2 separate regions of the Homo sapiens genome follow, and region 1 is linked to region 2. The links come from fine-mapping of genetic effects on gene expression. A gene starts in region 2. The other region holds a variant in brackets. All regions are shown on one strand. Distances are from middle to middle. Region 1 has its middle 44 kb from the start of IL33. Region 2 holds the start of PLGRKT (plasminogen receptor with a C-terminal lysine).

Region 1 (12,843 bases), 740 kb after region 2:
ATCAACTCACAGTATAAGCTTCCATCCCCATCTGCTGTACTCTCATTAGGCTGAGATTACCTTATAAAAACATAGGTGGAAGCCGTCATCCTATCATATGACAATTTCTGCCCTGAAACACACAGAAAATTAACCATCTGCTCTGATTTAAAACAAAACAGCTCCAAACTCAGACTACTAAAGCTGGTGTATTCTACCTATAAGGAGATGCAGAAAGTAAAAGGTATTTTTCATTGTTGTGTGACCTTCTTATATTGGTAAGGACTTGACTGAAATTGATATCTGGAAGTATCCTGCCACTTGGACCTTTCTCTATTAGTCTTGGAGTGATATGAAAAGAATATTATTTCAAGTATTGCCGGGGTAGGATTCAGTGAGGCAATAAATCACATGCACAAAAGGTATTTTTCTTTGTGAAGAATAAGAATGTGAGCTACCAGATCAAAACTGACTTGGAAGGCAGAATTTTAACACTTTTTTTTTTTTTTTTTGCAAACTAAGTGAAAAAGACACATTTGGAAAGTGATCACATGCTGTTAGTGAGCAACTTAATCAGTTTTGTTCTGAGTTTGAGGGTAATTAACTAATAAGAAATCATGGTTCAAAACAATAAAACTTTAACACACAACATGAACATGTTCAAAGATGGTCATGAATGTCCATATTTGTGAACATAGAAATGTTTAGGCAGGTACCTGACCTTCCCTCAAATCATAGATCCCACTGAGAGTCTCCTGTTTTCTGTGCATATTCTCAAGCCACAGGTGTTAACTCCCTTTCAACTTCTACTAAAGTTTTCCCGTCCTCTGATAGCCATTTTTCACATGTGAAAACTCGTTTCCATCTTTCACAAATGTAATATGCTACAGTGAGTGAAATTCAGCAAAGGCAAGACGAGACACAGCTGAGCGGTCAGAGAGGCATGCTCTTTGTCAAAGTAACTCCAGCTTTAAAATAACTCTCATTCAGGATCACTTGAGCCCAGGAGTGAGCTAAAGTGATTCAAGTGGCCTCACAATCTGTTCAACAAATATTTTGGCATTACAAAAAGAACCTTTTCAAATTTATTTTTTAGTTTCCTTGGCAAACGGGTTAACCAAAAGGATCTTCTGTAAGTGGACAAGGATTGAGAAAACTAAGGAATTTGATCCATTGAACCTATTGTCACGGAAATGCAGTGGTTTTGTATGGACCTAAATAATTTGGGCAACATAGCGAGACCTTGTCTCCACAAAAGAAAAATTGAGGCCAGGCGCGGTGGCTCACGCCTGTAATCCCAGCACTTTGGGAGGCCGAGGCAAGCAGATCACAAGGTCAGGAGATCAAGACCATCCTGGCTAACACGGTGAAACCCCGTCTCTACTAAAAAATACAAAAAATTAGCCGGGCTTGGTGGCGGGCGCCTGTAGTCCCAGCTACTTGGGAGGCTGAGGCAGGAGAATGGCGTGAACCCGGGAGGCGGAGCTTGCAGGGAGCCGAGATCGCACCACTGCACTCCAGCCTGGGCGACAGAGCAAGACTCTGTCTCAAAAAAAAAAAAGAAAAATTGAAAAATGAGCCAGGCATCATGGCATGTATCTGTGGTCTCAGCTATTTGGGAGGCTGAGGCAGGAGGATTGCTTCAAGCCCAGGAAGTTGAGCCTGCAGTGAGCCATGATTGCACCACTGCACTCCAGCTTGGGCAACAGAGTGAGAGCCTGACTCCAAAAAATTAAAGAAAATATATGTAAATAAGTGAAACAATAAATAAAAAATACTCAAACACACATGATGGGAAGGTATGATCTCGAATACACATGATGGGAAGGTGTGATCACTTGCAAAGAGTTATCATTGAAAAAGTTAAATTCATAAAAGCTAAGTGTCTACTGCAGCAAAAATTACATATCAAGTGAGAACGTAATTGTTTAAAAGTGCCTGAGACAGGTGCAGTGGCACATGTCTGTATTACCAGCTACTTGGAGAGCTGAGATGGGAAGATTGCTTGGGCCCAGAAGGTGGAGACTACCCTGGGCAAGATAGTAAGATCCTGTCTCTAAAAGGAAATAAAAGTGGCTGAAAGAAAAAAAAACTTGCTGAACATTCTTGTGAACATCCTTGTGTTCCAGTGCCCCAACTGCAGTCCATACTATAGAACTGTTCAGAGCCTAGAAGCTGCTGGAGCCAGAGGGTGGAGATGAGCCATAGGAGAAAACTGACCAGAGCTGCTAGAAGAAATAAACAACAATTTGACCTAATAACAAGAGCACTTAAAGAGATATAAATATAGCAAAATCAAAATATACTGGGGGGCTAACAAGCCATTATTTATGAACCTCCCTTCCCACCCAAGTCACCTCCTTTATGTGTGGTAGGATGTCCCCAGTCTAAGATTTAATCTATGTTCAACGTTCCAGGTTCTGTTTTGGGATTTCCGTAAAAACTAACCCTTTTCTCACCATGGACTTTCAAAAGCCTGGTTTTAAACTCAGAGCTGAGCAATTTCTTTCTGCCTAGACAGTATCTGCCTTTCCTTCTCTAGGGCAATAAACCTCAGCCTCAGAGGCTAATCTTCCTGTCAGAGGGGTTATGAGAAGAATCCATTATCAAGAAAAGAAAATACTTCAAGTGGTATTTTGACATGATACCAGGACACAAGAAATGATTATACCCAATTCCCAGATAAAATTATATTATGAGCACCTCCTCAAATTTGCATTCTCTGGGACCTAGGGATACGTCCTTTAAAGGTGCATCAGGAGGGAACATGTCAGAGCTCAATGCTCTTCCTTTCCTAAGTCAAGTGCATGAGACCCCACACTCCTTCTGATTGTATGGCCTTGAACTCAGGAACTGTGCATCATTTTTCTTTGTATCCTCTGTGCTTTAAGCAGCACAGTGCACATTGCAGTTGTTTAGGTCCATATAGAACCACTGCATTTCTGCCACAATAGGTTCAATGGATCTAATTATTTAGTTTTCTCAATCCTTGTCCACCCACAGAAGATCCTTTTGGTTAACCACTTTGTCAAGAAAACTAAAAAATAAACTTGAAAAAGTTCTTTTTGTAATGCCAAAATATTTGTTGAACATATTGTAAGGCCACTTGAATCACATTAGCTCACTAAAACGTCTATCGCAAAGTCACAGTCTTATGTTACTGAATTCTTAGAATTCTTATTCTCCTCTAATCCCACAGAAACAAAAATTGCTTAAAGTTCAATCTATCTTTAAAGAAAAATATTAAAATTTGTAATGTCTGTGGATAACTAGGAGGCAAGAAAGTTGAAAACTGAAATCCTGCGTCATATATCACTAGTAGGTCTTACCTCTCATTGTTTTTTGACATAAAGCAATTATTGGATAATTCAGCTTGGTAGAGAGGCTGAATTGTGATATTTGGGGTGTCATAAAAGGCAGTATTTGCAAGATCAAGTGGGAGACATAATACACAGAGTAAAAAATATACAGGGATAGGAACTGTAAGGGAAAAAAACCCAAGAGACTACAGGCTAAATAAACCTAACCCATGGATAACTGAAGTTCTAGAACGAGAAATAAAAACAGATAGAGACAAGGTAATAATACTAAACTATTAGAAGAAAATTTTCCTGAAATTAAGAAAATTTTAAATCTGCAGTTTGAAGTATTCAAGTTATGTATAGGAATGCTGGAAAAATAAAAAGCCTGATAAAATTTCTAAACTTTTAGGATAAATTTTAAAACTTCCAGACAGAAAGAATCTATGCTATTATATTAATAAAGATGCTTTCTGGTGGTGAGTATCAGAAACATCAAAGTGACTTTAAAAATAAGGAAACTGTATATATACATATCTCATATACACACACGTGCACACGTACACACACAAAGCCCAGGGGTAAAACCACTCTAGAGTTAGTTAATTCAGTGGCCTAACTGCACCAGTAAAGACAGACCAGGTTTTTTTCAAACTAATAATTCTGCTTTATCCTCAGACTACCTTCTTTCATGGCAAAAATTACAGCATCACAATGTCCAAAAGCAGCAAACGAATTGTCTCTCCTCTTGTCTTAGTGGCAGTAGCTGTTGATTACCTATCCAAGATCCACCATCTTAGTGGCAGTAGCTTAGTGGCAGTAGTTGTTGATTACCTATCCAAGATCCACCATCCTCTTCTTCTTCACTAAAAGAACCTTGATTTTGTGCCCAGCTAAACACACTTTCTAAGACTTCTTTTTGGTCAAGGGTGACCATGTGATATAATTTTGGACTATAAGATGTAAGCAGAAAGAAGTTTGTGTGATGGTTAGTTTTATGTGTCAACTTGACTGGACCATGGGGTCCCCAGATGTTTGTTTAAACATTATTCTGAGTGTATCTTCAAGGGTGTTTATGGATGAGATTAACATTTTAATCTGTAAAGCAAATTGCTTGCCATAATGTGGCTGGGCCTTATTCTATCAGGCCTAAATAGAACAAAAAGTCTGACTCTTCCCTGAGTAAGAGAGAATTTTCCAGCAGATGGCCTTTGGACTTCATCAGAAATATCAGCTCTTCCTGACTGATGACCTTTAAAGTGGGACATCAGCTATCCTTGAGTCCCCAGTCTGCCAACCCATTCTGCAGATTGGACTTGCCAGCTTTCATAATACTGTGAACCATTCCTTATTTATATTTATTCATCATATATATGTACACACACATATATGTAAATATATATATTTACATTATATTCCATATATATATTCTGTTTCTCTGAAGAACCCTGACCAATCTAATATATTTTGCTAAATGGTTTCTGGGAAACCATAAGCTTTCTTGATATGAAAGGACAGTAGCATGTGGTACAGACATTATCCTACCTATTTTTCCTTCTTCTTGCTTTGAAGTGATGACTGGAGCTAGAACTGCAGCAGCCATCTTGCAACTATGAGGGAAAGGTCAAAGAAACTAGAGATGTATATGCCCTGATATCAGAAATGCAACATCAGCAACTGCCTGCCTCTGGGCTTTTTGCTATCTGAGAAAACTATCCCCCAATTTTTAAAGGTCATTTTTGTTTTATGTTATTTTGAATTGAAAACTTTCCTAATTGATAGAG[T/C]AGTGATCTCAAATGCTAGAAAACTTTTCTAAAAAATATTTCTTACTAGACTTTCCTTGATGTATCATTGACTAGAGCAGAGTCACATGCTCACTCCTAAGCTAATTAGAAGTAAATGACCTTTTCATGATTGACTTAAACAAATCAAAATCTACAATTCCAGAACAAGAAATGGGATAAATACCATGGAGAATAGGATAATACCTGAGAAAATCAGTGCTGATGTTAGGAAGCCAGTAGATGTTGAGTGGGTAACCAAGTGTGTCTGCCACACTTACAAAGGAAAAAGAATCAGATAGGCATCAAACTTCCTGAATACATACTAAAATCTAAAAATGAATTACGTTATTTCTATAGGCTACCTCCAAAAGTGAGCTGAAACCCAAAAATTCACTGTCTAGCCCTGTCAGGATAAAAATATATATTTGCAGAAACTCAGGAATTCAGAGAACATTAATCACATACTTCATGTGAGAAAAACACTGCTAAACTACAAATGTTAGGACAGAGATTTCAAAATGAGGGGAGAGGAGAAGTAATAAGCAATACATCTGGCTCTATATGTAGAAAAATATAAGTGAATAGTGGCAGAGTGACCAAGAAATTATAATTTTAATTCTAAATAAGGATTTTTAAAACAAAAACTACATATTGCAAGGAAAAATATAAGAATCTTTGGGTCTTAGAGTACTAAATATTTCAATACTTGGATCTTAAAATATGATTTTAAAAACTCTAGGATTTGATAGTAGTGGGTGGAAAACAGATTATGGGAAATGAAAGCATTCTAACAACAAATTAATTAGTTACAGTTTGTTTTCTTTTCTGTGTGGCTTGTTTTCTTTTCTTTACAGCTGGTTTTCATTTCCTTTCAAATTTAAAAGAGTGTATTTAACATTCCATCTTAAGGCAATGTGATAACCATGAATTCTTTGTGTGAGAAAGGAAAGAGGGAGGTTAATTTTTAATGAAAGTCGATAGTGTAGAGGAAAGAGGGTCTTCCCTGGCATCCTTCAGCCATTTACAACATTTTACAAAACAATGCAGGTAAGGGAAAAGCTTTCACCCATAACTAGAGGAAAAAAGGTTCTAGCTGCCTAGGTTACAGCAGCCTGTGATGTGACTCAAGCCTCATAATTCACATTTTTTAAGGCTCACAATAATTTAGAGTTCCAACAGCTTTGACTTTGAATTACTTATTTTCACAATAACACAAACAAAACTTGATATAATAAATGCATATATCCTTAGAATTGACAATATATATTTTATATGACCATGATTTGTACAAAAATTGTATTTGCTGCAAAAAACATTAAAATATAAAACAGTAAAGATTTTTAAAACCACAAACTCTGATCCTCATCCAATAAAATCAGAAATATATCATATAAAAATGAAGTGACAAGAGGGCAGAATAGAAGGTAACCCGCTCATATCTCCCTATAAGAATTCTGCATCCATCCATGGTAAAAAGTCACTCTGCAGGAGCCTCAGGATTGAGGTAGGAGTTTGTGAAACCCTAGTGAAGTCCAAGACATCAGAGGATCATTTGCAGAGGGAAGACCTACACATAGGTGGCTGATCCACCAAGCTTGTTCCTGGGTTCAAGCCAGAAAATGACCCAGTCTCCCAAGGGGTTTGGATACAACCCCACTTGGCCTTGATCCTGCAACCAAAGCCATCTGCCGAGGAGTCAAGAAGGAATTGTGCACACTAATAGAAAGGCTCATCTACCCACTGACAGTCGTGTTGGCAGTCAATCTGAACGTTGCTCTCTGGTTCTGCTCCAGCCCCCTCAGGTGAGGTCCCAGCTCAGAGCTGCTTACATAAGGATCCAGAGGGAGACTTGCCCATAACTTGCAGCCCAGTAGTCTGAGCCTCTCAGACAGGCTAGAGCTTGTAAACCTCTGTTCCACAACAGATACCAAGGAGGCCCAGTCTCAGCTCTGGCCTCTCACACTGCAACCAAGGAACTATTCCATCTTTACAGAAACTTGCTGGGAGAATGTGTCTCTCTGAGCCAATGAGACAGGGCTCTCCAGGTTCTGCCCCACAGCAGATGTCAAGGGGGCCCCATCTCAGCAACACTCCATCCTGCTGCAGTTGGGGAACTATCCCATCTATGCTGATACCTGCTTGGAGATGTATACCTGTTTAAGCCAATGAGAAGGGCTCTTCAGCTTGTCCCACAGCAGATCCTGAGGGGCCCTAGTAACCGCTCTGACTCCCCCTGCTGCACAGAACTATCCCATCTATCCAGAGACCTACTAGAAGATGCGTACCCATATAAACCACTGGGATAAGCATGCCAGTGTCTGTCTCACAGCAGGTCCCTTGGAGGTCCAGCCTCAGCTTTGGTCTTTCCTGCTGCAGTCGAAGAACTACCCTGCTTGTGCAGGGTACTGCTGGGTGACATATATCTGTCTGAGCCAACAAAATAGGCCCATCAGCTTCCTTCCCATAACAGATCCTGAGAGGGACCAATTTCAACTCCAGCCTCCCTTGCTGCAGGTGGGGACCCATCCCACATGTGCAGAAACCTGCTGAGAGGCATGCACAGGTGGGATGGGTCCCCAACTGGGGATAGCCATCCATCTTGGCCACCAGGACAGTCTTCTGGATTCAGGTCCCTGTCCAGCATTCCCACACAGCCCAAGTACCCTCCTTGAGTCTTCCCCTGATCCTTCTGGGCTGGAAAGCTGTGCCAATCTCATAGTCCTCATGAGACTTGCAGCAAGCCTGTACTTAGAGCATCTTCTACTGCTGAGATGGCTGCAGAGGTCAGAGGCTCAGAGAAAACAATAGTCAGACTGTATAGAATCCCTACAAGGATAAGCACAAAGAAAGCTAGACTACAAAGACTAAAATATTAAATAAATACTTAACCTATCAATACGCAGACATCATTTCATGTTCACAGCATTAAAAACACACACGGAAATATGACTCTTCATATGGAAAAACTAAGGTGCCAGAGGCTGACCCTAAAGGGATAGAGATATGCACTTTCTTAGACAAATAATACAAAATAGCTGTTTTAAGAAGCTTGATTGACTTCTACAAAATACACATAATCAATTCAGAAATGTATCAGAGAAATTTAACAGAGATTAAAATAATTAAAAAAAAAAAAACCCAGAAATCCTGGAGCTGAAAAATACAATGAATGAAAGGAAAAATGCAATAGATCAGCAGAACTGATCAAGCTGAACAATCAGTGAGCTTGAAAACAGAATATTTGAAAATATACAGTCAGAGGAGAAAAAAGAATGAAAAGTATAAAGAAAGCTTACAGGAATGACAGGACAACAATAAAAGAGCAATCATTCATGTTACTTAGTTAAAGAGGGAAATGAGAAAGACAAGAAGGTAGAAAGCTTTTTCAAAGAAATAATAACATAAACCTTCCAAACCTGGAGAAAGATATAAATATCCAGGTACAGGAAGGTCAAGGGTCACCAATCACTTTCAACCCATATAAGAATACCCTTAGGTATTACAATCAAACTCTCAAAGATCAAAGACAAAGAAGCGATTATGAAAGCAATGAGAAAAAAGAAGCAAATAACAGATAAGGTAGATCTGAAATGCCTGGCAGCAGACTTCTCAGTAGAAACTGTACAGGCCAGGAGAGGTGAGATGATATATTCAGAGTGCTGAAAGAAGTAAACTGCAAAGCAAGAATACTGTTTCCAGTAAAGCTATTCTTCAGAAACGAAGGAGAGATAAAGGCTTTCCTAGACAAACAAAAGCTGAGGGAATTTGTTGCTACCAGACCTGTCCTACAAGAAATGCTAACGAGAGTTCTTTAGGCCAAAAGAAAAGGATACCAATGTGATTGTTACACTAATATTGTAATTGTGGTGTGTAAATCAATTAAATCTTTACTAAGAAGACTAAAAGATAAAACTACTAAAAACAATAACTACAACAATTTATTAAGAGATTAGCAATATAAAAATGTAAATTGCAGTATCAAAAATTCAAAATGTGTGAGGAGAGGGGAATTAATATGTATAAGGTTTTATTTTGTTAGTTTGTTTCTTTTTGTTTTTTTGTGATCAAAGCTAAGTTGGAATCAGTTTTAAGTAACTTGTTATAACTATAGAATTTTTTGTAATCTTCATATTAACCACCAAACAAAAACTTATGATAGATATACTGAAAATAAAAAGCAATGAATTAAAACATACTACCAGAGAAAATCACTTAACCACAAAGGAAGACAGTGAGAAAGGACGGAACTGGAGGCCTTTGGTAAGCCAGGCACAGAAAGACAAATATCGCATGTTCTCATTCATATGTGGGAGCTGAAAAAGTGGATCTCATGGAGATAGAGATTAAAATGGTGCTTACCAGAGGATGTAAAAGAAAGGCGAGGGAGGTAGGGATGAAGAGAAGTTGGTTAAAGGATACAAAAACATAGAAGGAATAGGTTCTAGTATTTGATGTATAGTAGGGAAATTATAGTTAACAATAACTTATTGTATATTTCAAAGTAGCTGGAAGAGAAGATTTGTAATGCTCCCAACAGAAAGAAAAGATACATGTTTGAAGTGATGGCCATCCTGATTACCCTGATTTTCTCATTACACATTATATGCAGGTATCAAAATATTGCATGTACAACTATTAAATATCAATTTTTTAAAAATTTAAAAATCAAAAACACTTTTCAAAAAGAAACCTGTAAGTCCTAATGATGGTGGAGTAACCATAACACTCCTATACTGCCTATAGGAGTATAGAAAGAAAGAAAAATGAAAGTACACATGAAAGAAAAATAAATTTCTATTTGGATAAAAGAAATAGATAATATAAATAAATACGATCTTAAAAATTAGAAAAAGCAATCAAAAACCCAAACTAAGAAAATAAAAGCTAAAATTGATGAAATAGAAATTTTTTTACATGGAAGAAGAATGCATCAACTGAAAAACTATTCCTTTGAGAGGACCAATAAAAACAACAAGCTTCATGAGCCTGATTATGGCAAAAATAAAATATGCCCACAAGAAAAAATATACATGATTAGGAATGAAAAATGATAACTATCAAAGAAAGAGATTTTTTAAAAAATTGTAAGAGCCAGGTATGATGGCTCATGCCTGTAATCCCAGCACTTTGGGAGGCCAAGGCAGGAGGATGGCTTGGGGCCAGGAGTTCAAATAGCCTGTGCACCATGGTGAGACCCTGTCTCCCACAAAAAAACTAAAAAACTAGCCAGGCATGGTGGCTCATACCTGTAGACCTAGCTACTCAGGAGCCTGAGGCAGGATAATTGCTTGAGCCCAGGAGGTTGAAGATGCAGTGAGCTATAATTGTGCCACTGTACTCTAGCCTGGGTAGTAGAGTGAGACCCTGTCACAGAAAAAAAAAAAAAAAAATATATATATATATATATATATGTATATGAATATTATATGCACATCTGTCAAAACAAATTTGAGAACCAGGAGGAAATTGCTGATTTCCTAGCAAAATACAAATGTCTAAAATTGACCTAAGAAATAGAAAACATTAAAAGGCCAATTTCCATAGAATAGATTTGAAAGGTGATAAACCATAGCTGTCCAAAGATGTCTGTGTTCTAACCCCTGAATATGTGAATAAAGTATGTTATTTTATATGGCAAAAGGAACTTTACAGTTGTGATTATGTTAAGGATCTAGACATAGAGAAAGTACCTTGCATTAATTCCAGGTGGCCCCAATGATGTAATTGCAAGGGTCTTTATAAGAGGGAGTGTGGTAGGCTGAATAATGGCCCCCAAATATATCGAAGTCTTGATCCCTGGATCCTATGAATATTACCTTATATGGCAAAGGGATTTTGCAGGTGTGATTAAATTAGTAATTTTTTTTAGATGAAGAGATTATCCTGTATTAGCTGGGTGGGCCCTAAATATAATCACAAGTGTGCTTGTAAGAAGGAGAAAGAGGGAGATTTGACCACAGTAGAGGGTGATGCCATCATGGAAGCAGAGAGAGATTTGAAGACGTTATACTGCTACCTTTGAAAATGAAGGAAAGTGCAATGAGACATGTAATGCAAATGGCCCCTAAAAGCTGGAAAAGGCAAGGAAACGGATTCTCCTCCAGAGCCTTCAGAGGGAGTGCAGTCCTGCTGACACCTTGACTTTAGCCCAGTGAAGCTGATTTTGTACTTATGACCTCTATAACTATAAGAGAATAAATTTGTGTTGTCTTAAGCCCCTAAATTTGTGGTAATTTGCTACAGTAGAAATAGGAAACTAACACAGGTGAATTTTTCTTTAATTTTTTAATTTTTTATTTTTTATTATTATACTTTAAGTTTTAGGGTACATGTGCACAATGTGCAGGTTAGTTACATATGTATACATGTGCCATGTTGGTGCGCTGCACCCACTAACTCCTCATCTAGCATTAGGTATATCTCCCAATGCTAACCCTCCCCCCTCCCCCCAACCCACAACAGTCCCCAGAGTGTGATATTCCCCTTCCTGTGTCCATGTGTTCTCATTGTTCAATTCCCACCTATGAGTGAGAATATGCGGTGTTTGGTTTTTTGTTCTTGCCATAGTTTACTGAGAATGTTGATTTCCAATTTCATCCATGTCCCTACAAAGGACATGAACTCATCATTTTTTATGGCTGCATAGTATTCCATGGTGTATATGTGCCACATTTTCTTAATCCAGTCTATCATTGTTGGACATTTGGGTTGATTCCAACTCTTTGCTATTGTGAATAATGCCGCAATAAACGTACGTGTGCACGTGTCTTTATAGCAGCATGATTTATAGTCCTTTGGGTATATACCCAGTAATGGGAATGGCTGGGTCAAATGGTATTTCTAGTTCTAGATCCCTGAGGAATTGCCACACTGACTTCCACAGTGGTTGAACTAGTTTACAGTCCCACCAACAGTGTAAAAGTGTACCTATTTCTCCACATCCTCTCCAGCACCTGTTGTTTCCTGACTTTTTAATGATTGCCATTCTAACTGGTGTGAGATGGTATCTCATTGTGGTTTTGATTTGCATTTCTCTGATGGCCAGTGATGGTGAGCATTTTTTCATGTGTTTTTTGGCTGCATAAATGTCTTCTTTTGAGAAGTGTCTGTTCATGTCCTTCGCCCACTTTTTGATGGGGTTGTTTGTTTTTTTCTTGTAAATTTGTTGGAGTTCATTGTAGATTCTGGATATTAGCCCTTTGTCAGATGAGTAGGTTGTGAAAATTGTCTCCCATTTTGTGGGTTGCCTGTTTACTCTGATGGTAGTTTCTTTTGCTGTGCAGAAGCTCTTTAGTTGAATTAGATCCCATTTGTCAATTTTGGCTTTTGTTGCCATTGCTTTTGGTGTTTTAGACATGAAGTCCTTGCCCATGCCTATGTCCTGAATGGTAATGCCTAGGTTTTCTTCTAGGGTTTTTATGGTTTTAGGTCGAACATTTAAGTCTTTAATCCATCTTGAATTGATTTTTGTATAAGGTGTAAGGAAGGGATCCAGTTTCAGCTTTCTACATATGGCTAGCCAGTTTTCCCAGCACCATTTATTAAATAGGGAATCCTTTCCCCATTGCTCGTTTTTCTCAGGTTTGTCAAAGATCAGATAGTTGTAGATATGCGGCATTATTTCTGAGGGCTCTGTTCTGTTCCTTTGATCCATACCTCTGTTTTGGTACCAGTACCATGCTGTTTTGGTTACTGTAGCCTTGTAGTATAGTTTGAAGTCAGGTAGCGTGATGCCTCCAGCTTTGTTCTTTTGGCTTAGGATTGACTTGGCGATGCAGGCT
Region 2 (12,843 bases):
CAACGCTGCTCAACTGTGACACAAATCCACTGAGTGCATAGCACTCATTTCGCCCGTGCCCATCTTTGTCACCTCGGTGAGTTTTGGAGGACATGGGGAATTAACACCACCACGCTCATGCTGTTTGCTGTGCTGTGAGTAATAAAGTCCTCTGACTCTGATGTAGTTGTCTCCAGTCTTCTGTAATAGGCTAACACGTTAGCTTGCAAGTAGGGTAAAATCCCAGACCCTTCACAGACCCTGACTTCATGGGGACCAACATAAGAGTAAAAACCCTGTAGTTTCCAAAGGTCTTTGACAAGGACGTGCTAAGCATCGGATAGCTGGCTGATTTGTAAACCTAATACTTGGTCTCGCCTAGGTCACTGCTCTGTTACAATAATTCAGTTGTCCATTCTTTCAATTGTTTCATTGTCCCCAAAGAGATATTTATTCTGCATAAGACACTCTTGTCAGTCATTAAAAACAATAATAGTAACAACAGCAACAAATATTTATGAGGTGAGAAGCATTTTTCTAAAAACTTGAGGCATTGTTCTATATATTTCATCTTTAATCTTTAAAACATCCCTTTGAAGGGGATATTATTACCTCCAGTGTACAGATCAGGAGACTGAGGCACAAGTCACACAGTTAGTCAAGGGTGGGACTGGGATTCAAACTCAGGCAGTCTGGCTTTAGTCTTCATTTTTAACCACTAGCTACATGCCTTACCAGAGGACTTTCTACTCCCAGAGCCATAATGGGCCACAGAGGCCTAGACATCTTTGTCTGAAATCTTAGGAAAATAATTCGGGTCAAACTTTTAAGACTTGATTTTTTGACTTGCAACATTTTAAAATGTTTTTTACAACCTGTATTAGGCAATTAGATAATCTTCTGCAGTGCTTTGATCTTTTCTATCCAGCCACGTCTAAATCCAATGTTAAGGTTTCACACTCCATGTTAGTTTCCTATTGCTGCAGTAACAAATTATACGAAGTCTGTGGCTTAAAACAACACCAATCTATTATCTTACAGTTCTAAGTTCAGAAGTCCAAAATGGGCTGGCAGGACTGCATCCCTGTAGAGGCTCTAAAGAATAATCTGTTTCCGTGCCTTTTCCAGCCTCTAGGGGCTTCCTGAATTCCTTGACTCATGATCCTTAAACAATCTTCAAAGCCAGCAGTGTAGCATCTTCAAATCTCTCTTATACTGACTCTCATGCTTCCTTCTTTCTCTTATAAAGACCCTTGTGGGCCAGGCACACATACCTGTAATTCCAGCAATTTGGGAGGCTGAGGCCAGTAGATCATTTGAGGCCAGGAGTTCGAGACCAGCCTGGCCAACATGGTGAAACCTTGTCTCTATTAAAAATACAAAAATTAGCCGGGAGTGGTGGTGCATGCCTGCAATCCCAGCTACTAGGGAGGCTGAGGCACAAGAATCGCTTGAACCCAGGAGGCAGAGGTTGCAGTGAGCCCAGATCATACCACTGCACTCCAGGCTGGGCAACACAGTGAGACTCTCTCAAAAAAAAAAAAAAAAAAAAAAAGACAGACCCTTGTGATGACAATGAGTCCATCTGCATAATCCAGGATAATCTCCCCATCTCAAACATTATCTTTGGGGGTGGGGGGCATTATTCTATGTACCACATACTCTAAGCAGTTATCTCTTCCTACAGAATGGAAATTTTTACACAAATTTATCTGGATTGGAGATTTAAATTAGCCCATTCACCAGATAATTAGTAAGCCATTTTATCTTGGTTTTAAGGATGCAGCCCAAAGAACATTTTATTGTTGGGAGTCAAAGAGAATGTACGGCTGGAGTACATGTGGTAGAAACTTTAAGCATTGTAACAACATAATAGCTTAATTATTTTAAAACATACCTGAAGTCGAGCATTCATAAGCATGAACTCCTTTTGATTTTTCATGCTTTCATTCATAGATTTTGAAAATATAAACCCCATTTTGACCTAAAATGTAAAAAAAGCAAGGAGACTTATAATAATACACTACATGCATTCTTGTATGCTCCACTTTGAGCTACCTTGGGCTTATGACAAAGTAAAAAAAAAAAGTAAAATTTCTGATCTAGGAACACAGTGTGGATTCTAGTTCTTGCTCCTAACTAGCTGCCTGACCTCAGGCATACTTAACGAGTCTGGCCATCATTTTACTCACCTAACACCAACTGATTGAACTAGATAATTTCCAAAATCCTTCCCTGCTCTATAAGTATATGGCTGTTTCCTGATTTTTCTTCCCACCATAAATCTTGAAGAACTGAATTCTTGAAGAAAAAAACAACTCTCTTTTTTTGTGAGGGGAAGGGTGGATACCATCCATCTTCTTACCTCTGTACAATTAGGCAACAGAACCTTTGCATCTGAGGAGGGATGATTAAGAAGATGCCTTGTGCGTCTTAAGAACATATTTCTTTGTGCTCTTTGCATTTGCGTTTTAAGAAGATTGAGCTCTCCCTCTCCCTCCCCCTCCCCCTCCCTCTTTCTACGGTCTCCCTCTCTTGCGGAGCCTGGACTGTACCGCCATGATCTCGGCTCGCTGCAACCTCCCTGCCTCTGGCTCCGGTGATTCTCCTGTCTCGGCCTGCCGAGTGCCAGGGATTCCAGGCACGCGCCACCACTCCTGACTGGTTTTTGTATTTTTGGTGGAGACGGGGTTTTGCCGTGTTGACTGGGCTGGTCTCGAGCTCCTGGCCTCGGGTGATCTGCCCGCCTCGGCCTCCCGAGGTGCTGGGATTGCAGACGGAGTCTCGCTCATTCAGTGCTCAATGTTGCCCAGGCTGGAGTGCAGTGGCGTGATCTCGGCTGGCTACAACCTCCACCTCCCAGCCGCCTGCCTTGGCCTCCCAAAGTGCTAAGATTACAGCCTCTGCCCGCCCGCCACTCCGTCTAGGAAGTGAGCAGCGTCTCTGCCTGGCCGCCCTGTCTGGGAGGTGAGGAGCATCTCTGCCCGGCCGCCACCCCGTCTAGGAAGTGAGGAGCGTCTCTGCCTGGCCGCCCATCGTCTGGGATGTGAGGAGGGCCTCTGCCCGGCCGCCCCGTCTGGGAGGAAGTGAGGAGCGCCTCTGCCCAGCCACCCCGTCTGGGAAGAAGTGAGGAGCGCTTCTGCCTGGCCGCCCCCTCTGGGAAGTGAGGAGTGCCTCTGCCCGGCCGCCACCCCGTCTAGGAAGTGAGGAGCATCTCTGCCTGGCCGCCCATCGTCTGGGATGTGAGGAGCCCCTCTGCCTGGCCACCCCGTCTAGGAAGTAAGGAGTGTCTCTGCCTGACCGCCCGTTGTCTGGGATGTGAGGAGCATCTCTTCCTGACCGCCCATCGTCTGGGGTGTGAGGAGCATCTCTGCCTGACCGTCCACCGTCTGGGATGTGAGGAGCGCCTCTGCCTGGCTGCCCCATCTGGGAAGTGAGGAGTGCCTCTGCCCGGCCGCCACCCCGTCTAGGAAGCAAGGAGCGACTCTGCCTGACCACCCATCGTCTGGGATGTGAGGAGCGCCTTTGCCCGGCCGCCCCGTCTGGGATGTGAGGAGTGCCTCTGCCCGGCTGCCCCGTCTGGGAAGTGAGGAGCGTCTCTGCCTGAGCGCCCATCGTCTGGGATGTGAGGAGCGCCTTGGCCCGGCCGCCCCGTCTGGGATGTGAGGAGTGCCTCTGCCCGGCTGCCCCGTCTGGGAAGTGAGGAGCGTCTCTGCCTGAGCACCCATCGTCTGGGATGTGAGGAGCGCCTTTGCCCGGCTGCCCCGTCTGGGATGTGAGGAGTGCCTCTGCCTGGCTGCCCCGTCTGGGAAGTGAGGAGCGTCTCTGCCTGAGCGCCCATCATCTGGGATGTGAGGAGCGCCTTTGCCCGGCCGCCCCGTCTGGGATGTGAGGAGCGCCTCTGCCCGGCTGCCCCATCTGGGAATTGAGGAGCACCTCTGCCCGGCCGCCCCGTCTGGGAGGAAGTGAGGAGCGCCTCTGCCCGGCTGCCCCGTCTGGGAGGAAGTGAGGAGCGCCTCTGCCCCGTTGCCCCAAATGGGAAGTGAGGAGCGCCTCTGCCCGGCCGCCCCATCTGGGAAGTGAGGAGTGCCTCTGCCCGGCTGCCACCCTGTCTGGGAGGTCAGGGGCGTCTCTGCCCCGCCGCCACCCCGTCTGGGAAGTGAGGAGCGCCTCTGCCCGGCCGCCACCCCGTCTGGGAGGTGAGGGGTGTCTCTGCCCAGCCATCCCGCCTGGGAAGTGAGGGGCGCCTCTGCCCGGCCGCCCTTCGTCTGGGAGGTGGGGAGCGCCTCTGCCCGGCCGCCCCGTCTGGGAAGTGGGCGCCTCTGCCTGGCCACCCCGTCTGGGAGGTGAGGAGCACCTCTGCCCGGCCGCCCCATTTGGGAGGTGAGGGGCGTCTCTGCCTGGCCGCCACCCCGTCTGGGAAGTGAGGAGCACCTCTGCCCGGCCGCCGCCCCGTCTGGGAGGTGAGGGGTGTCTCTGCCCGGCTGCCCCGCCTGGGAAGTGAGGGGCACCTCTGCCCGGCTGCTCTTTGTCTGGGAGGTGGGGAGCGCCTCTGCCCAGCCGCCCCGTCTGGGAAGTGGGCGCCTCTGCCTGGCCGCCCCCTCTGGGAGGTGGGGAGCGCCTCTGCCTGGCCACCCATCATCTGGGATGTGAGGAGCACCGCTGCCCGGCCGCCACCCCGTCTGGGAAGTGAGGTGTGCCTCTGCCTGGCCGCTCCGTCTGGGAAGTGAGGAGCGCCTCTGCCCGGCCGCCCTGTCTGGGAAGTGAGGTGTGCCTCTGCCTGGCCGCCCCATCTGGGAAGTGTACCCAACAGCTCCGAAGAGACAGCGACCATCGAGAACGGGCCATGATGACGATGGCGGTTTTGTCGAAAAGAAAAGGGGGAAATGTGGGGAAAAGAAAGAGAGATCAGATTGTTACTGTGTCTGTGTAGAAAGAAGTAGACATAGGAGACTCCATTTTGTTCTGTACTAAGAAAAATTCTTCTGCCTTGGGATGCTGTTAATCTATAACCTTACCCCCAACCCCCTGCTCTCTGAAACATGTGCTGTGTCAACTCAGGGTTAAATGGATTAAGGGTGGTGCAAGATGTGCTTTGTTAAACAGATGCTTGAAGACAGCATGCTCGTTAAGAGTCACCACCACTCCCTAATCTCAAGTACCCAGGGACACAAACAGGGCCAAAGGCCGCAGGGACCTCTGCCTAGGAAAACCAGAGACCTTTGTTCTTGTGTTTATCTGCTGACCTTCTCTCCACTATTATCCTATGACCCTGCCACATCCCCCTCTCTAAGAAACACCCAAGAATGATCAATAAATACTAAAAAAAAAAAAAAAAAGAAGAAGATTGAGCTGTCTCAAGGTCAGTAGACCAGTTATTCTTCCTGTCATCCCACCACAATCCCTGTCCCTCTCCTACATGCCCCTTATTTCCATCCACCCACTGCTAACTGCCTTAGCCATCCTCCTCCAGCTTCACTCTCATTCTCTCCAAGATAGCATGTACTAAAGTTCTCAAAAATGGAAAAACATACAGATACTTGAATGTCCTGGAAAATGTACTTTTTAGATGAATGCACAGTAGTGTCTATCTTATGTAAGTTTTTAAGTGGGCTGTCAACTCTACAAGGGACAGAACTCCAATTTTTATTCTTAATCCAACTGGGTGGGTACAGAAGACCTTGAGTTAGTTGGTTGCATTTCAGAATACTGCAAAACTCAGGGGAAAGTTACAACTGCTCTACCCTTCTCAACAATGTTGCTGATACCTTTTCTCTTTAATAGGCTGTTGAGTAGGGTTGTGAACCTCAGGTAAGAATGGCCAGTCTTAATTCATTACAGCCAGGATTCCCAAGTATTCTGTGGGAAGCCCAGCTAATGGGGTTCCAGGTGAGTGGGAGCTGCAAGCAAGACTTCAGTGACTTCCTTGTATTCTGATCAAGGATACACCTGGAGTTTCAGGGCTCTGTGCCAGAGTCAGCTTCAAAGCTGAGCACAGGATACCAAACCACTTACCAGGATGAAGAGGCACAATGCTGAAAAGGCCTGAGGTGGTGAGATTTCCCTCCCCTTCTGCCACTGTGCCACTCGAGCACCCTGTGACCAGAGTTAGAGGCCACTCACTGACAGCAGGGTGATTTGGCAGTTCTTTCCTTTCTCCAAACCCTAACAGTCCCATGCGACTCATCTCTAACAGCAGACCAGAACCTGCCTGAGGTTAGGAGCGAGATATTATCCATCTTGATAGTCTCCATGGTGTCTACTTCCCCTAAATATTTGCACAAAGCATGAGAGATACAAGAAAAACTGTGGCTCAGGCCACTTGCCATTACTTATTTTTCTTCTGAACATAGGAGTGGATGACTAAATTTTTACACCTGCTGCAAACATTTATAAAGAAAACAACTGTACTCTAGTACTATTCCTCCACATACCCTGTATATCACAGAGCTGTGTGCTTTCAAGTGCTCCTGTTTGTAAGGGGTTAGGATCTCCCCTGAAAAGAGAGAGTCCTCATGTCAATCATCTGGGAAAGAAACACTGTCTGGGAAGTTAGTATTTAGATTTACCTCTTTCTGGGCCTTGCTCTCCTGGGTCTGGACTTGTAGTCTGAATGTGTTAGAGGACGCTCCCAGGTGGAAGGGTTAAAGGTGGAAGCCAAGCAGGAAGAAGAGCTTCCTTATGGGAAACCACACCTGAGAATAAATAAATGCATCACACCTTGTAAATTTCACCCTGGAGTTCAGTATTTTCAACATTCTTTCCTTTCCCAACTTCCCCATTCCTGGCAAAGTCATTTCCCAAAGTCTGGGAATATTCCGTAGGGTGTCCAGAACACTTTCAGCTATCTCCTCTTGCTCACAAAATATGTATCAGAAAATAAGCAAAATTGACCTTGCAATAGGGATAACTTTGATTTCACTCACTTGTATAAGTTAAGTCTTTTAAAAATTCTAACACTTTTCACCAGGGGTAAAAAAAAATGTCTTGCTACTTATACAATTTTAAACATCACTGTGTCTCAGAGTGATGTTTTGCAGAGAATGCTGATTTCAATCCCTCTGTCTTCATTTTCCCTTTGATTCCTTCTGAGATCTTGGAAGGGGTCTTTAATGCTTCAGCCCTGCCTCAGGTGAGCTATAGATTACTATGGGAAGGTGTATTTCTGGGGAGGAGAAGTGGTGCCTGCAAGTTCCAGACAACCTTTCTTCCGGTCACCCGTGAGTACCTAGATTTGATTTTACTTGGGGGGACATAAAAAATTAATTGCATGAATTCTGTCATCGGGATTACCACGCTGACTTATTTCCCGATCAGATGACACATTGCCTGAATGTATGACTGATCGTCTCACCACAGTCATTTTCAATATTTGCATCCCATTGAAATTAAGCCACATCCCCTTGCAAATTCCAGCCCAGAGCCCACAGCTTCCGGAGGTTTTCTGTAATTAACACCGCCCTTGCTCCCTGAGGCCAGTTACTGTAATTTAGGTATTCCCCGCAATAGTGTGCTGATTTCTGTTGAGAGCACTGTGCCTGTTTTTCTCAACTCTATTTTAAAGCTACGGAGAGATCCGGAGTCCACGCCAGGCGACAAGAACGCGCTCTAATGGAACGAAGTTGGCAATACCTATCAGCACCAGGGGCAGTGCGAGAGCCAAGAGCCGGCGCTCACGAGGAGCGGGCGCCCAGCGCTGCCTGGCAAGCCCGGAGCCCAGGAGATCGCGCTGACTGACATGGCCGGGCTGACCCTTCTCCCCACCCGCCTGCGGCCGGTGTTCACTCACTGGGCGGCGCTGGTGCCGGGACCAGGCGACCGGTACGCAAACCTCCAGGCCCGGGCTCCTTTCGCCCGCTGCAGGGACCGGGCCTCGCTCCGCCCAGCGTCGGGATTGGCGCCCAGACACAGTAGATGACGCACCTCAGCCAATTCGCGCAGCCCTCAGCTTCTTTAAAGAGCCGGCACTTCCGCCAGAAGCCGGGTGTGTCCTTCCGGGCCAGGCTCAGTGTTACCAGAGGTGGGAGGGGAAGGTCAAAAGAGGCAAATTCAAAGCCGCGGCGACTCAGCTGCCAGATTTTTGAGATGAGGCAGAGGAAGCGGAGTGGAATTCTCAATTAAAGGCCTCTGTCCCCTCATCTGTTAAATTGGCACTATTAAAAAGTCATAAAGATAAGACAGAAACGAGAAAGAAGAGAATTGACTGAAATTACCCATTCTTTTTTGAACAGAGCCGTCTTTCTCCCCTGCTGCTCAGAGAGATGTCGGTCTCGCCTCAACCTCACCAGCAATTTCTATCTTGAATAAGCCACGTCTCTCTCCCAGCCTGAGAGAATGCTTGAATTGTTGGCACTCTGTTCTTTGCTACCAAATGGCTTGGAAAAATAGCATGAACGTCACCAGTCTCTGGCCTTCAGGAAAGTCCCTGCTAACCACCACAGCGGTGGAGAAGGCGTCTAACTTTCTCCAGGCTCAGCGTGTGAGTGCACACCGCCCTGACCTCCTGGGCGCGTCTTGATGCTCTCAACAGCAGCCCTCAGGATTCTGGACTGTGGGTCCCACATTCCAGATACCATTTGTGGAATGGCTGGATGAGAAAATTGCAACAGCACCCTCATTTCCAGTTAAGGGAATGGGCGGGTTACCAGGAGGTTTGACACTCTTGAAGGGAGGTTAACAACTGATGCAAGAAGTAAGGAATCGTGTTTGAGTGCACAGACTCTAGCATAAACACACCTACCTTCAATTTCTAGCTCTGTCACTGTCACTCTGAATTTATCACCTCTGCAACAGGACTAAAGCCATCTAATTTATTGGATTGTGAGGACTAAAAGATAATATATGTGGGCATTTAGCACAGTGTCGGGCACATAGTTCGCCTTCCGTAACCAGTAGTAACCAGTAACAGCGGGGAGCTGTTAGTAACTATAGGGCTGAGGGGTGGGGGAAGGAAGCAGTTACTAAAACCAGGCGAGAGCGAGAGCGGTAGCTGTGGCTGTACGAGAGAGTAACCAACTGGAACCGTGTCGTTCAGTAGAGGAAAGCAAGCAATGCCAACTTTTCACCAAGTAAGGTGAGATTCTATAGTTGTAGCCAGTGCTGAGACGTCAGCCCAAAGCAGGGACAGAGTGGAGAAGACCCACCTCTCTGTTCTCCCAGCTCTGATATCCAGCTGGGGTCTTCCGCTGGCTGGATCCACCAGGAAGCCAGAAGACAGTGGAGCTAGGTCTGTGTAGTCTGTAGAGGTCAGCCTACTAGGCACAATGCCTGGAGGGAGAAATAGAAAATATCCAGCACACCATTTCTTTTTTTTGTTTGTTTTTACACTTTAAGCTCTAGGGTACATGTGCACAACGTGCAGGTTTGTTACCTATGTATACATGTGCCGTGTTGGTGTGTTGCACCCATTAAGTTGTCATTTACATTAGGTGTATCTCCTAATGCTATCCCTCCCCCCTCCCCCCACCCCACAACAGGCCCCGGTGTGTGATGTCCCCCTTCCTGTGTCCAAGTGTTCTCATTGTTCAATTCCCACCTATGAGTGAGAACATGCGGTGTTTGGTTTTTTGTCCTTGCGATAGTTTGCTGAGAATGATGGTTTCCAGCTTCATCCACGTCCCTACAAAGGACATGAACTCATCATTTTTTATGGCTGCATAGTATTCCAGCACACCATTTCTACAACCTTGGGTTTATTGTGTTTGGAAGCCTAGATCCAAAGGAAGGAATGCTGCCACTAGAAGACCCCGTCACTGAATTGAATTGAATTTCAATTCATTGATTCGAAAGCTGAAACTGCCCTCTGGTCACTTTGATTCCTCACAGTGACAGAATGGTATGATTCATCCCAAATACCAAAAGGAAATTGGGTTACATCTATATATTGAGGGCAAGAAGAACTATGCATGACACCTGGAGATTCACTGGGCACTTCTTAATACTGCCGTGTGCCATAATAATGATTATCAGATAACTGAAGTAATGCAGAAATTTCAGATCATGAAGAAATTAAAGTGTTGAAGCATACCAGATAAAAAAATCCTGATCTACCTAGGTGTTGGCATAGGGCAGGGGAAACATACATAAGTAAATGAGTAGGAAGCTATGATTATTAATTTTAGCCTTGCAACAAGCTCTAGAGGCAGGAATTATAGTAGCTCTCCATTTAAAATGTTAATTACTTCTTCCCTGACTCTCTTTTCCTATTACCCTGCATAAAGAGTAGTGGTGGAGATAAATATTACAATTTAGTTTCTGGGTGAGAATGTGCCTGAACTGACATCCCCTCAAGGCAATATGGCAGCTGATGAGGCTTGTTAAGGAAAATCAAAGCTGGACAATAGCTGTAGCAGTAAAAATAGATTTTTATTCAGCAACTTTTGAAATAGGGGGAAAGAGACCTTGGTAAAGAACTGGGCTCAATTCTGAATACAGTAAGGATAAGTGGGGATTTATAGCCGAGGAGCAGGTTGTGTGGATGGGGGTGGGGTCCGTGGATGGAAAATTACTAAGAAGAGACAGCAAGGGTAGGGGAAATCCTTGCTAAACTGACCTAACAGGATTCTTGCTAAAGGTAGGCCAGGGTAAGCAGACATCACCTGGGGGCTGGTGGGGGTAAGGAATTTGATCAGATATTGAGAGTGGTCAAACATTCAGGGTGGGAAGATCCTCTCTAAACTGACTTAGCAGGATTCTTGCCAACACTGATTCTGCAAGGATGAACACTGCAGCCCAAGGTCAATATCTAATCAAGGAGATGGCTTAGAGGAGCCTGACTAAAGTTTGGTCGAGGAGAAATCTTGTCAGACTCTGTCATTCTCATATGTAAGGGATGAGCTGCTCTTCATCTGAGCAAAGGAAAAGAATAAATTCTGGGTGACAAAACAATTAGACTGTCTAGGTTTTCTGTTTGCCTTCCATCATATTCATTCTCCTCACTTCCCTGCCCTGTTCTATACCCCAAAGCTGACCTCTTTGGACGGCACCACCTGGGCTCTCCTCAGCTGGTTTCCATTTGAGTTTGGACAGCGGGAGGCATTCAGGGAGATGGGAGGCAGGAGGAAAAAGACATCAGGGTATATTTTCTCTGTTCTTTCTCTGTTTGGGGCTGAGTATCTGGTGGTGGTTGTGTTTCTCCACAATTGCAGCTCTTGGCAAGCAGTCCCTTCTCCATGGCTCCAGCTCCATGGGCTCTGGAAACACTTTTCTCCTTTGCTATGTAGCCTAGAGAGAGCGCAGTCTTCCTGCTGTTGCTAGACTCTGGATGACTCAACTGGATGGTTCTCTTAGTCATACTCCTTTAAGTAGTGTCTTCACTAATATCTCTTTAATCAAACCAACTGAGTAAAATTCTGATTCCTGATGGATACATGTTAAACCGAAAACACACATTATAAATTTTCTTGTATGTATGATGTTTTTCATAATTTTAAAACATAAGTGAAAAAAGTGACCATAGAAAAATATGCCCAGGAAATTGAAAAAAAAAGTCTTGGTATAGATATTGGACACATTTTATAAAATGTGGAGTAAGAGGGTTAAAGGAAATTTATTTCAGAATCAAATGGCATATAACTTTAACTGGTATGTGAATTATTTTCAGTTGTATGAATTTGTGAATATATATGTGTACATTTTTATGCATATATATAAATATGTGTTTTATATCATCTTGCATTATAACATAAGGATTTTTATGTTGCTACATTGCATTTATATTTACCATTTTTAACAGCTAAAGGATTTTCAATAAGTGTGTATGTAACAACTTCCATTGCTGGATATTTCTCAGTATATATATGTATATATACATATGTGTGTATACATATATATATACATATGTGTATATATACATATGTATGTATATGTATATGTACGTATGTATGTGTATATATACATACATGTGTGTATACGCATATATACATATGTGTATATATACACGTATATACATGTGTGTATATATACACGTATATACGTGTGTATATACACACGTATATACATGTGTGTATATACATGTGTGTATATACACACGTATATACGTGTGTATATACACACGTATATACATGTGTGTATATACACACGTATATACATGTGTGTATATATACGTGTGTATATATATAAACACATATATATATGCACATGCATATGTATACACTGAGTTAAGTAGTATAAATATTTTAGAGAAAATTGATGTAAAATCCTCAACTCATTTGATGCTCCCTATCCCAGGACAGTAAAAATTGCCCAATATTTCCTTGGACCTCCATAAAGAAGCAGTTTTTCAAAAAATAAAGTGTTTGGAAGTTTAAGATGTGCCTAGCAGTGTCTCCTTTTAACAGAGATGCTTTCACAAGGATTTGAATTTCCCCATTGAGCTGGGAACCAGGTTTAGCCAAGAACTTCGGTCTGTGAAGGACTGCAAATAGTTGCACAGTGTGGGGCTGAGGCTAGAACCTCCTTAATATTAAACCATTCTGGGATGGTGCTCCCCAAATTCTGGATTTTAACCTTCACTCCAATCCTGGGGCACCTCTGTAGCTTGGGCATGACCTGGACACAAGCTTTGTGTAAGCCTTCTTTGGACTTCATCCATTCCTCAACGGTGACACCATGTGGCAGTGTAATATAATGGCATCAGTGGACTCAGATCCTGTTCTCTCCCTACCTAGAGATTTTTAAGATTAAGATATGTAATTCACAACCATAAAATGTACCACCTTAAATTGTACAATTTATTGGTTTTTCATACATTCAAAAAGTTGTACAACCACCACCATTATCTAATTCCATAACATTTTCTTCACCCTAGAAAGAAACCTCATACCTATTAGCAGCCACTCCCCAAACTCCCCATTCTCCCCATTC

What was found. PIP is the estimated chance that this variant, and not a neighbour inherited with it, causes the effect.
Region 1: its variant is fine-mapped to the expression of PLGRKT in gastroesophageal junction (GTEx, PIP 0.97).

What each region holds. Positions count from the first base shown.
Region 1 is chr9:6,165,852-6,178,694 of GRCh38, forward strand. No RefSeq gene overlaps it. Among named protein-coding and RNA genes, the nearest start is that of IL33, 44 kb to the right of the region's middle. RefSeq lists an enhancer at 688-1,189. The variant T/C (reference allele first, on the strand shown) is at 5,063.
Region 2 is chr9:5,430,021-5,442,863 of GRCh38, forward strand. It overlaps PLGRKT (plasminogen receptor with a C-terminal lysine), which reads right to left and starts at 7,905. Exons shown (of 6, transcript NM_018465.4): 1 at 7,769-7,905; 2 at 6,549-6,674; 3 at 1,877-1,963. The coding sequence starts at 1,957. RefSeq lists enhancers at 7,207-8,406, 7,462-7,551, 9,112-9,271.